2 separate regions of the Homo sapiens genome follow, and region 1 is linked to region 2. Evidence: fine-mapped expression QTL. A gene starts in region 2. The other region holds a variant in brackets. All regions are shown on one strand. Distances are from middle to middle.

Evidence for each region. PIP is the estimated chance that this variant, and not a neighbour inherited with it, causes the effect.
Region 1: its variant is fine-mapped to the expression of ECI1 in whole blood (TOPMed, PIP 0.97).

The regions. Positions count from the first base shown.
Region 1 is chr16:2,218,368-2,222,872 of GRCh38, reverse strand. No RefSeq gene overlaps it. Among named protein-coding and RNA genes, the nearest start is that of E4F1, 3.0 kb to the left of the region's middle. RefSeq lists an enhancer at 2,318-2,942. The variant C/G (reference allele first, on the strand shown) is at 2,308.
Region 2 is chr16:2,248,895-2,253,136 of GRCh38, reverse strand. It overlaps ECI1 (enoyl-CoA delta isomerase 1), which reads left to right and starts at 1,550. Exons shown (of 7, transcript NM_001919.4): 1 at 1,550-1,622; 2 at 1,708-1,821. The coding sequence starts at 1,571. RNPS1 (RNA binding protein with serine rich domain 1) reads left to right here. Exons shown (of 8, transcript NM_080594.4): 8 at 1-17. LOC107984839 (a long non-coding RNA gene) reads right to left here and starts at 1,467. Exons shown (of 2, transcript XR_001752052.2): 1 at 1,144-1,467; 2 at 1-155. RefSeq lists enhancers at 1,099-1,158, 2,089-2,218 and a silencer at 1,409-1,878.

The DNA.
Region 1 (4,505 bases), 30 kb after region 2:
TTTTTTGTATTTTTAGTAGAGACGGGGTTTCACCGTGATAGCCAGGATGGTCTCGATCTCCTGACCTCGTGATCCGCCCGCCTCGGCCTCCCAAAGTGCTGGGATTACAGGCGTGAGCCACCGTGCCCAGCCACTTTTTAAATTTTTTAAAATTTATTTGCATTATGTATTTTAAATAGAGACAGGGTCTTGCTGTTTAGACTAGGCTGGTCTCAAACTCCTAGCCTCAAACCATTTTCCCATTTCGGCCTCCCAAAGTGCTAGGATGACAGGCGTGAGCCACGACTCCCAGCCACGTTGAATTTTTGGTTTTGGAGATGGGGGTTGTTTTTGGTTTTTGTTTGTTTGGGGTGTTTGTTTTTGAGACAGAGTCTCACTCTATCACCTAGGCTGGAGTGCAATGGCGCGATCTCACTGCAGCCTCCGCCTCCTGGGTTCAAATGATTGTCCTGCCTCAGCCTCCCGAGTAGCTGGGACTACAGGAGTGCACCACCATGGCCAGCTAATTTTTGTATTTTTAGTAGAGACAGGGTTTCACCATGTTGGCCTAGATGGTCTCAAGCTCTTGACCTCACGATCTGCCCGCCTCGGCCTCCCAAAGTGCTGGGATTACAAGCATGAGCCACCGCGCCCGGCCTGTTTTTGTTTTTTGAGATGGAGTCTCGCTCTGTCACCTAGGCTAGAATGCAACGGCACGATCTTGGTTCACTGCAATCTCCGCCTCCCAGGTTCAAGCGATTCTCCTGCCTCAGCCTCCTGAGTAGCTGGGACTACAGGCAACTGCCACCACACCCGGCTAATTTTTTTATATTTTTAGGAGAGACGGAGTTTCACCATGTTGGCCATGCTGGTTTTGAACTCCTGACCTCAGGTGATCCGTCCCCCTTGGCCTCCCAAAGTGCTGGGATGACAGGCATGAGCCACCGAGCCTGGCCAGATTTTTTTTTGAAACAGCACCTTGCTCTGTCGCCCAGGCTGGAGTGCAGTGCCGTGATCTCAGCTCACTGCAGCCTCTACCTCAACCACCCAAGTAGCTGGGACTACAGGTGCCCATCACTAGCTAATTTTTGTATATTTTGTAGAGATGGGTTTTTGCCATGTTGCCTAGGCTGCTATAGAACTCCTGAGTTCAAGCGATCTGCCTGCCTCAGCCCTCTTACATACTTTTAAAAAATTGTGGGCCAGGCACAGTGGCTCACTCCCGTAATCCCAGCACTTTGGGAGGCTGAGGTGGGTGGATCACCTGACATCAGGAGTTCAAGACCAAGCAGGCCAACATGGCAAAATTACGTCTTTACTAAAAATACAAAAATTATCTGGGTGTGGTGGTGCACGCGTGTAATCCTAGCTACTCAGGAGGCTGAGGCAGGAGAATCGTTTGAACCTGGGAGGCAGAGGTTTCAGTGAGCCGAGATCGTGCCACTGTACTCCGGCCTGGGCAACAGAGCAAGATTCCGTCTCAAAAAAAACTGTGGTAAGTGCACATAAAATTTACTATTAGCGACATTCACAGTGTTGTGCAACTATCACAGCTATGTGGGTACAGAACCTTTCCGGCACCCTGAAAGGAAACCTGTGCCTTTGAAGCAGTGATTCCCCATCCGCCCCTCCCTGCCAGCCCTGGGTAGACGCCAGTCTACCTTCTGCCTCCATGATAAATTTACCTGTTGTGAACATGTCCTACAATATGTGACTTTCATTGTTTGTTTTTTGAGGGTCTCACTCTGTCATCCAAGCTGGAGTGCAGTGGCATGATCTCGGCTCACTGCCACCTCCGCCTCCCGGGTTCACGCCATTCTCCTGCCTCAGCCTCCGGAGTAGCTGGGACGACAGATGCCCGCCACCATGCCTGGCTAATTTTTTTGCATTTTTAGTAGAGATGGGGTTTCACCATGTTAGCCAGGATGGTCTTGATTTCTTGACCTCGTGATACGTCCGCCTTGGCCTCCCAAAGTGCTGCGATTACAGGCGTGAGCCACTGCGCCTGGCCCTGTTTTGTTTGCTTTGAGATAGGGTCTCACTCTGTCACCCAGGCTGGAGTGCATTGGTGTGATCCTAGCAGCCTCCACCTCCAGGCTCAGGTAAGGTGATCGGCAGTCAGGTTGGGGTAACAATGGGCCCGCTTTCTGCAAGTAGGTTGCTCACCACTGCAAGGTTTTGAGCAGAGGGAATGATGGTGGGTGTTGCAGAAACATCCCTCTAACTGCTGCACAGAAAAAGGGACTTTAGGCCGGGCCCAGTGACTCACGCCTGTAATCCCAACACTTTGGGAGGCTGAGGCGGGCAGATCACCTGAGGTCAGGAGTT[C/G]AAGACAGCCTGACCAATATGGTGAAAGCCCGTCTCTAGTAAAAATACAAAAATTAGCCGGGTGTGGTGACGGCTGCCTGTAGTCCCAGCTACTCGGGAGGCTGAGACAGGAGAATGGCCTGAACCCGGGAAGCGGAGGTTGCAGTGAGCCGAGATCTCGCCACTGCACTCCAGCCTGGGTGACAGATCGAGACTCTGTCTCAAAAAAAAAAAAAAAAAGGGGATTTTAGGGCTTAAGCAGAAGCAGGAAGGGGCTCAGAAAGCCACTGAGAGCCAGAATGGGTGGTCTCTGAGTGGGGCAAACAGAACGAAGAGCAGGTTGGAGCTTTTGGAGCTTGAGGGTTCTGGGGAGCTGCTGGGGAGGAGGACCAGGAGACAGGTGGGTGAGGTGAAGCCATGGAGGAGGTGAGTGCAGAGCCCCAAAAGACCTCCATTCATGGTGTGCTGAGGAGTAACTGAGAAGCCGGTATCCAGGGGATTTAGGGGTATGGATGGGATGATTGTCCCCTCTAAACTCATGCTGAAACTTTATCCCCAATGTAACAGCATTAAGAGGTGAGGCCTTCAGCCGCCCCATCCGGGAGGGAGGTGGGGGGGTCAGCCCCCCGCCCAGCCAGCCGCCCCGTCCGGGAGGTGAGGGGCGCCTCTGCCCGGCCACCCCTACTGGGAAGTGAGGAACCCCTCTGCCCGGCCACCACCCCGTCTGGGAGGTGTGCCCAACAGCTCATTTAGAACGGGCCAGGATGACAATGGCGGCTTTGTAGAATAGGAAGGCGGGAAAGGTGGGGAAAAGATTGAGAAATCGGATGGTTGCCGTGTCTGTGTAGAAAGAGGTAGACATGGGAGACTTTTCATTTTGTTCTGTACTAAGAAAAATTCTTCTGCCTTGGGATCCTGTTGATCTGTGACCTTATCCCCAACCCTGTGCTCTCTGAAACATGTGCTGTGTCCACTCAGGGTTGAATGGATTAAGGGCGGTGCAAGATGTGCTTTGTTAAACAGATGCTTGAAGGCAGCATGCTCCTTAAGAGTCATCACCACTCCCTAATCTCAAGTACCCAGGGACACAAACACTGCGGAAGGCTGCAGGGTCCTCTGCCTAGGAAAACCAGAGACCTTTGTTCACTTGTTTATCTGCTGACCTTCCCTCCACTATTGTCCTATGACCCTGCCAAATCCCCCTCTGTGAGAAACACCCAAGAATGATCAATAAAAATAAAAATAAAAATAAAAATAAAAATAAAAAAAGAGGTGAGGCCTTTAAGAGGCAAAGGGGGCCGGGAGCGGTGGCTCACGCCTGTAATCCCAGCACTCTGGGAGGCCGAGGCAGACGGATCATCTGAGGTCAGAAGTTTGAGACCAGCCTGGCCAACACAGCAGAAACCCCCATCTCTATTAAAAATACAAAAGTTGGGCCGGGCACGGTGGCTCATGCCTGTAATCCCAGCACTTTGGGAGGCCGAGGCGGGGGGATTAAAAGGTCAGGAGTTCAAGACCATCCTGACCAACATGGTGAAACCCCGTCTCTACTAAAAATACAAAAATTAGCCAGGCCTGGTGGCATGTGCCTGTAATCCCAGCTACTCAGGAGGCTGAGGCAGGAGAATCGCTTGAACCTAGGAGGTGGAGGTTGCAGTGAGTCGAGATCATGCCATTGCACTCCAGCCTGGGCAACAGAGCGAGACTCTGTCTCAAAAAAAAAAAAAAAAAAAAAAAAAAGTTGCCGGGCGCGGTGGCTCACGCCTGTAATCCCAGCACTTTGGGAGGCCAAGGAGGGCGGATCACGAGGTCAGGGTATTGAGACCATCCTGGCTAACATGGTGAAACCCTGTCTCTACTAAAAAAAAAAAAAAAAAATCAGCCGGGTGTGGTGGCACACGCCTGTAGTCCCAGCTACTCGGGAGGGCGAGACAGGAGAATCGCTTCAACCCGGAGGCGGAGGTTGCAGTGAGCCGAGATCGCGCCACTGCACTCCAGCTTGGGCAACAGAGCGAGACTCGGTCTCAAAACGAACAAAAAAAAAATACAAAAGTTAGCCAGGTGTGGTGACACACACCTATAATCCCAGCTACTAGGGAGGCTGAGGCAGGAGAATTGCTTGAACCTGGTGGGGCGGAGGTTGCAGTCAGCTGAGATGGCACCACTGCCCGCCAGCCTGGGTAACAAAGTGAGACCGTATCTCAAAAAGAAAAGGGCAT
Region 2 (4,242 bases):
CAAGATCGGAATGCAAATCTAGTTCTGGGTTCACTGCCTTCTCACTTGTCCCCTCGCCCCTAGTAACTTTCTGTTCCTCACCATCCGCAGTGGCACCTCCGATGCTTTCAGCCAGGAGAACCTAGGGTTTGTGTGCTGTGGGGACCAGGTTGCTCCTAGGGTGGACAAATAGAAGGAGATGGTTTTATCGCCACCTTGGAATGTGTGTGTGTTTTCAGACAGACTCTCGCTCTGTCACCCAGGCTGGAGTATGTACCATGGTGCGATCATAGCTCATTACAGCCTCCAACTCCTTCTTCAGTGTCCAGAGTAGCAGGGGCTAATTTTTTTTTAATTTTTTAATTTTTTTTTTGAGACAGTCTCTGTTGCCTGGGTTGGAGTGCAGTGGCGCAATATTGGCTCACTACAACCTCTGCCTCCTGGGTTCAAGTGATTTTCCTGCCTCAGCCTCCTGAGTAGCTGGAATTACAGGCACCTGCCACCATGCCCAGCTAATTTTTTGTATTTCTAGTAGAGACGGCGTTTCATCATATTGGCCCGGCTGGTCTCAAACTCCTGACCTCATGATTTGCCCACCTTGGCCCCCAAAGTGCTGGGATTACAGGCATGAGCCACCGCGCCCAGCAGCAGGAGCTAATTTTTAAGAATTTTTTGTAGCAACAAGTTGTTGCTATGTTACCCAGCTGGTCCTGAGTCACTGGGGTTACAGGTGTGTGTCACCATGCCAGGCTTGCTTCCTCCTCCGTTAAGTGGCCATTTTTCCACCTCAAAAATTGGTTTGGGACACAAGGAAGAATTGGAAATGCTTAAGATGAGAACAAAAGTTGAGACCACCCAACACAGCTGGGACCTTACTGCCCAGTGCTCCCAGTGGTCTGACCAAAACCCCACACCAGACAGTACAAAGGCCCACTCCCGAGCTGCCGCTTACGGCCCAGCGGGAACAGACTGTATTCTTATCTTTCGGCATTTCTCTGCAAATAAAAAGGTGCCACTGCGGTCCGGCCTTTGTGCACTTGCCCTTGTGCTGAGCAAGGCGGGTGGCCTGTTCTTACCGCTGGGTTCTGCTGCCCCCACCCCCATTTCGGTGACTAAACCTGCAGCTCTGATCCTGTTCCCAAAGGGGCAGGAGGCCGGGCTCACCCCAGGCAGCCCCTGGCCTCCCTGACGGCCCCCTCGGGAGGGGTTCCGTGCTTTGATCGCCTTTCCAGCGCCGATACTGCAGTAGCTGGGCCCGGCCGAGAGCTCGCGGTCACGAACACCGGCAGCCTCTTGCCTACAGTGTCCCGCGCTGTAGAAGAGCCTGCCCTGGCGCTGAGCTGGTCGTGGCTGCTTCAGCAGTGGGCCTGCGCCTCCTTGTAGGCCAGCCCTGGCCCAGATCCAGGTGCCTGCCCCGGAAGCGCGCGGCTGCCCGGGGTGAAGCCGGAGGGCGGCGAGCGGCTGTTTCGGCCGGTAGGTGGAGGCGTTGACCAGCCTCTGGGAACGGGGCGGGACCTAGTTGGGGGGGCTCCGCCCCCTCCCCAGGAGGCGAGCTCAGCCCGCGACCTTTATCCCGCGCGTTGCGGTCAAGATGGCGCTGGTGGCTTCTGTGCGAGTCCCGGCGCGCGTTCTGCTCCGCGCGGGTGCGAAACCCGGGGTGGGCAGGGATCGGGCCGGGGCCGGGGCCAGGACCGGGAACTAACGGGCTCCCCCACGCTGCCTTCGCAGGGGCCCGGCTCCCGGGCGCGGCCCTCGGGCGGACGGAGCGGGCGGCCGGCGGCGGAGACGGCGCGCGGCGCTTCGGGAGCCAGCGGGTGCTGGTGGAGCCGGACGCGGGCGCAGGTGAGCGGGCGGCGCCGAGGGAGGGCGGGCGTGGGGTCAGGACCCGCGGGGGTCCGCGCTCGCGGGGTGCTGTCGGAGAACCACGTCTGTCGACGCTCGGTTTGTGTTTAGAACCCAAGTTTCGAAACAGAACCTTGCCGCTCTACCTGGGTTCGTTCGTCATGAGATAAAAGTTTCTGTTTTTAAAGTTGGCGGAGGCCGGGCGCGGTGGCTCACGCCTGTAATCCTAGCACTTTAAGAGGCAGAGGCGGGCGGATCACCTGAGGTCAGGAGTTCGAGATCAGCCTGGCCAACATGATGAAACCCTATCTGTACTGAAAAATACAAAAGAAAAAAATTAGCTGGGCGTGGTGGTGCGTGCCTATGCCTGGGAGGCTGAGGCAGAAGAATCGCTGGAATCTGGGAGGTGGAGGCTGCAGTGAGCCGAGATTGTGCCACTGCACTCCAGCTTGGGCCACAGAGCAAGATTCCGTCTCAAAATAAATAAATAAATAAAAATAAAGTTGGCGGGGATATGAGCTGTTATCTAAGTTATTCAATTGGAAGTGGAAAAGAATTGGAATCTTTTGGAATAAAATTACGTTTGTTAACACTCCCATGTGGCACAGAACCTCGTACCTACCCGCCCGTCAGAACCCTTGGTAAAACCCACTGGAAAGGATAGAAAAAGTACTTTTGGAAGAGAAGCCTGTGCGCTCCCTCCAGACAGGAGGCCGAGCTGAGGGCACCGAGAGGGCACGCCTAGGCGCCAGCAGTTCTGCTTCCAGGACATGCTGACCTGGACCTCCCGGTGCAGCAGTCCCTGCTGTGGCTCCTGAGAGGAGGCCCTCCCCCTCCGCAAGTAAGTCACAGCCCCTGCCCTCCCCAACCCCCCAGACTCAGGGCTGTGCCCAACTTTGCACAGCTTCAGGACTCCAGGCTCCTGGTGCCTCTGAACTTGGTTCCGTCCTCTCTGTCTGGGCTGAGGGAGCTGCCTGGGCTCTCTCTACAAACTTGAGAGGGACAAACTAAGACCAACTTCAAACTGACTTTTTTTTTTTTTTTTTTTTTTTTTGGAGATGTAGTCTTGCTCTCCAGTCGCCAGACTGGAGTGCAGTGGCGCAATCTCCGATCACTGCAACCTGTGCCTCCTGGGTTCAAGCGATTCTCCCTCCTCAGCCTCCCAAATAGCTGGGATTACAGGGACCCACCACTATGCCCACTAATTTTTGTAAAAACTGAGTTTCTGAAGGGATCATTTCTGTAGCATATTTGAATATATCTCAACAAAATGCAAAAAAAAAAATTATTATTTTTTTTTTTTTGAGACAGAGGCTCCCTCTGTCACCCAGGCTGGCGTGCAATGGCGCGGTTCCGGCTCACTGCAATCTCAGTCAGGCCTGACTTTCTGACTCCAAACTCTACTTTGTCTTTTTTTTTTTTTTTTTTTTTTTTTTTTTGAGACGGAGTCTTGCTCTGTCGCCAGGCTGGAGTGCAGTGGCACGATCTCCGCTCACTGCAAGCTCCGCCTCCCGGGTTCACACCATTCTTCTACCTCAGCCGCCCAAGTAGCTGGGACTACAGGCGCCCGCCACCACGCCCGGCTAATTTTTTTTTTTTGGTATTTTTAGTGGAGACGGGGTTTCACCATGTTAGCCAGGATGGTCTTGATCTCCTGACCTCGTGATCCACCCGCCTCGGCCTCCCAAAGTGCTGGGATTACAGGCGTGAGCCACCGCGCCCGGCTTACGTTGTCTTTTTATATGGTAAAGTGGGGAGGCACTCGAGTAAAAAAATTGTCATTGTACGAACACTTTTCCTTTTTTACCGGAGGTAATGTGTGTGTGTGTGTACATAAAAATCTTTAAAATATGCCTCACATTTACCATTCTAGCCATTTTGCAATGTACAACCCCGTGGCCGTAAGTATATTCACAATGTGTAGTCCACACTACCCATTCCAATACCTTAAGATAACATGTTTTTGAGTCCGGGCCCGGTGGCTCCCACCTGTAATCCCAGCACTTTGGGAGGCCAGGGTGCGCGGATCACGAGGTCAGGAGATTGAGACCATTCTGGCTAACACGGTGAAACCCCATCTCTACTAAAAAATACAAAAAAAAATTAGCCGGGCGTGGTGGCGGGCACCTGTAGTCCCAGCTACTTGGGAGGCTGAGGCAGGAGAATGGTGTGAACCCCGGAGGTGGAGCTTGCAGTAAGCCGAGATCGCGCCACTGCACTCCAGCCTGGGCAACAGAGCAAGAATCTGTCTCAAAAATAAATTAATTAATTAAATAAAATAAATAAATAAATAAATAGGAATGACAACCACATGGATGAACCTTGAACACATGATACTAAGTGGACAAAGCCGACAACAAAGCCCGGCGGTATCCCAGTGATATGGAATATGGCTGGAGCAGGAAAACCGCAGACACAGAA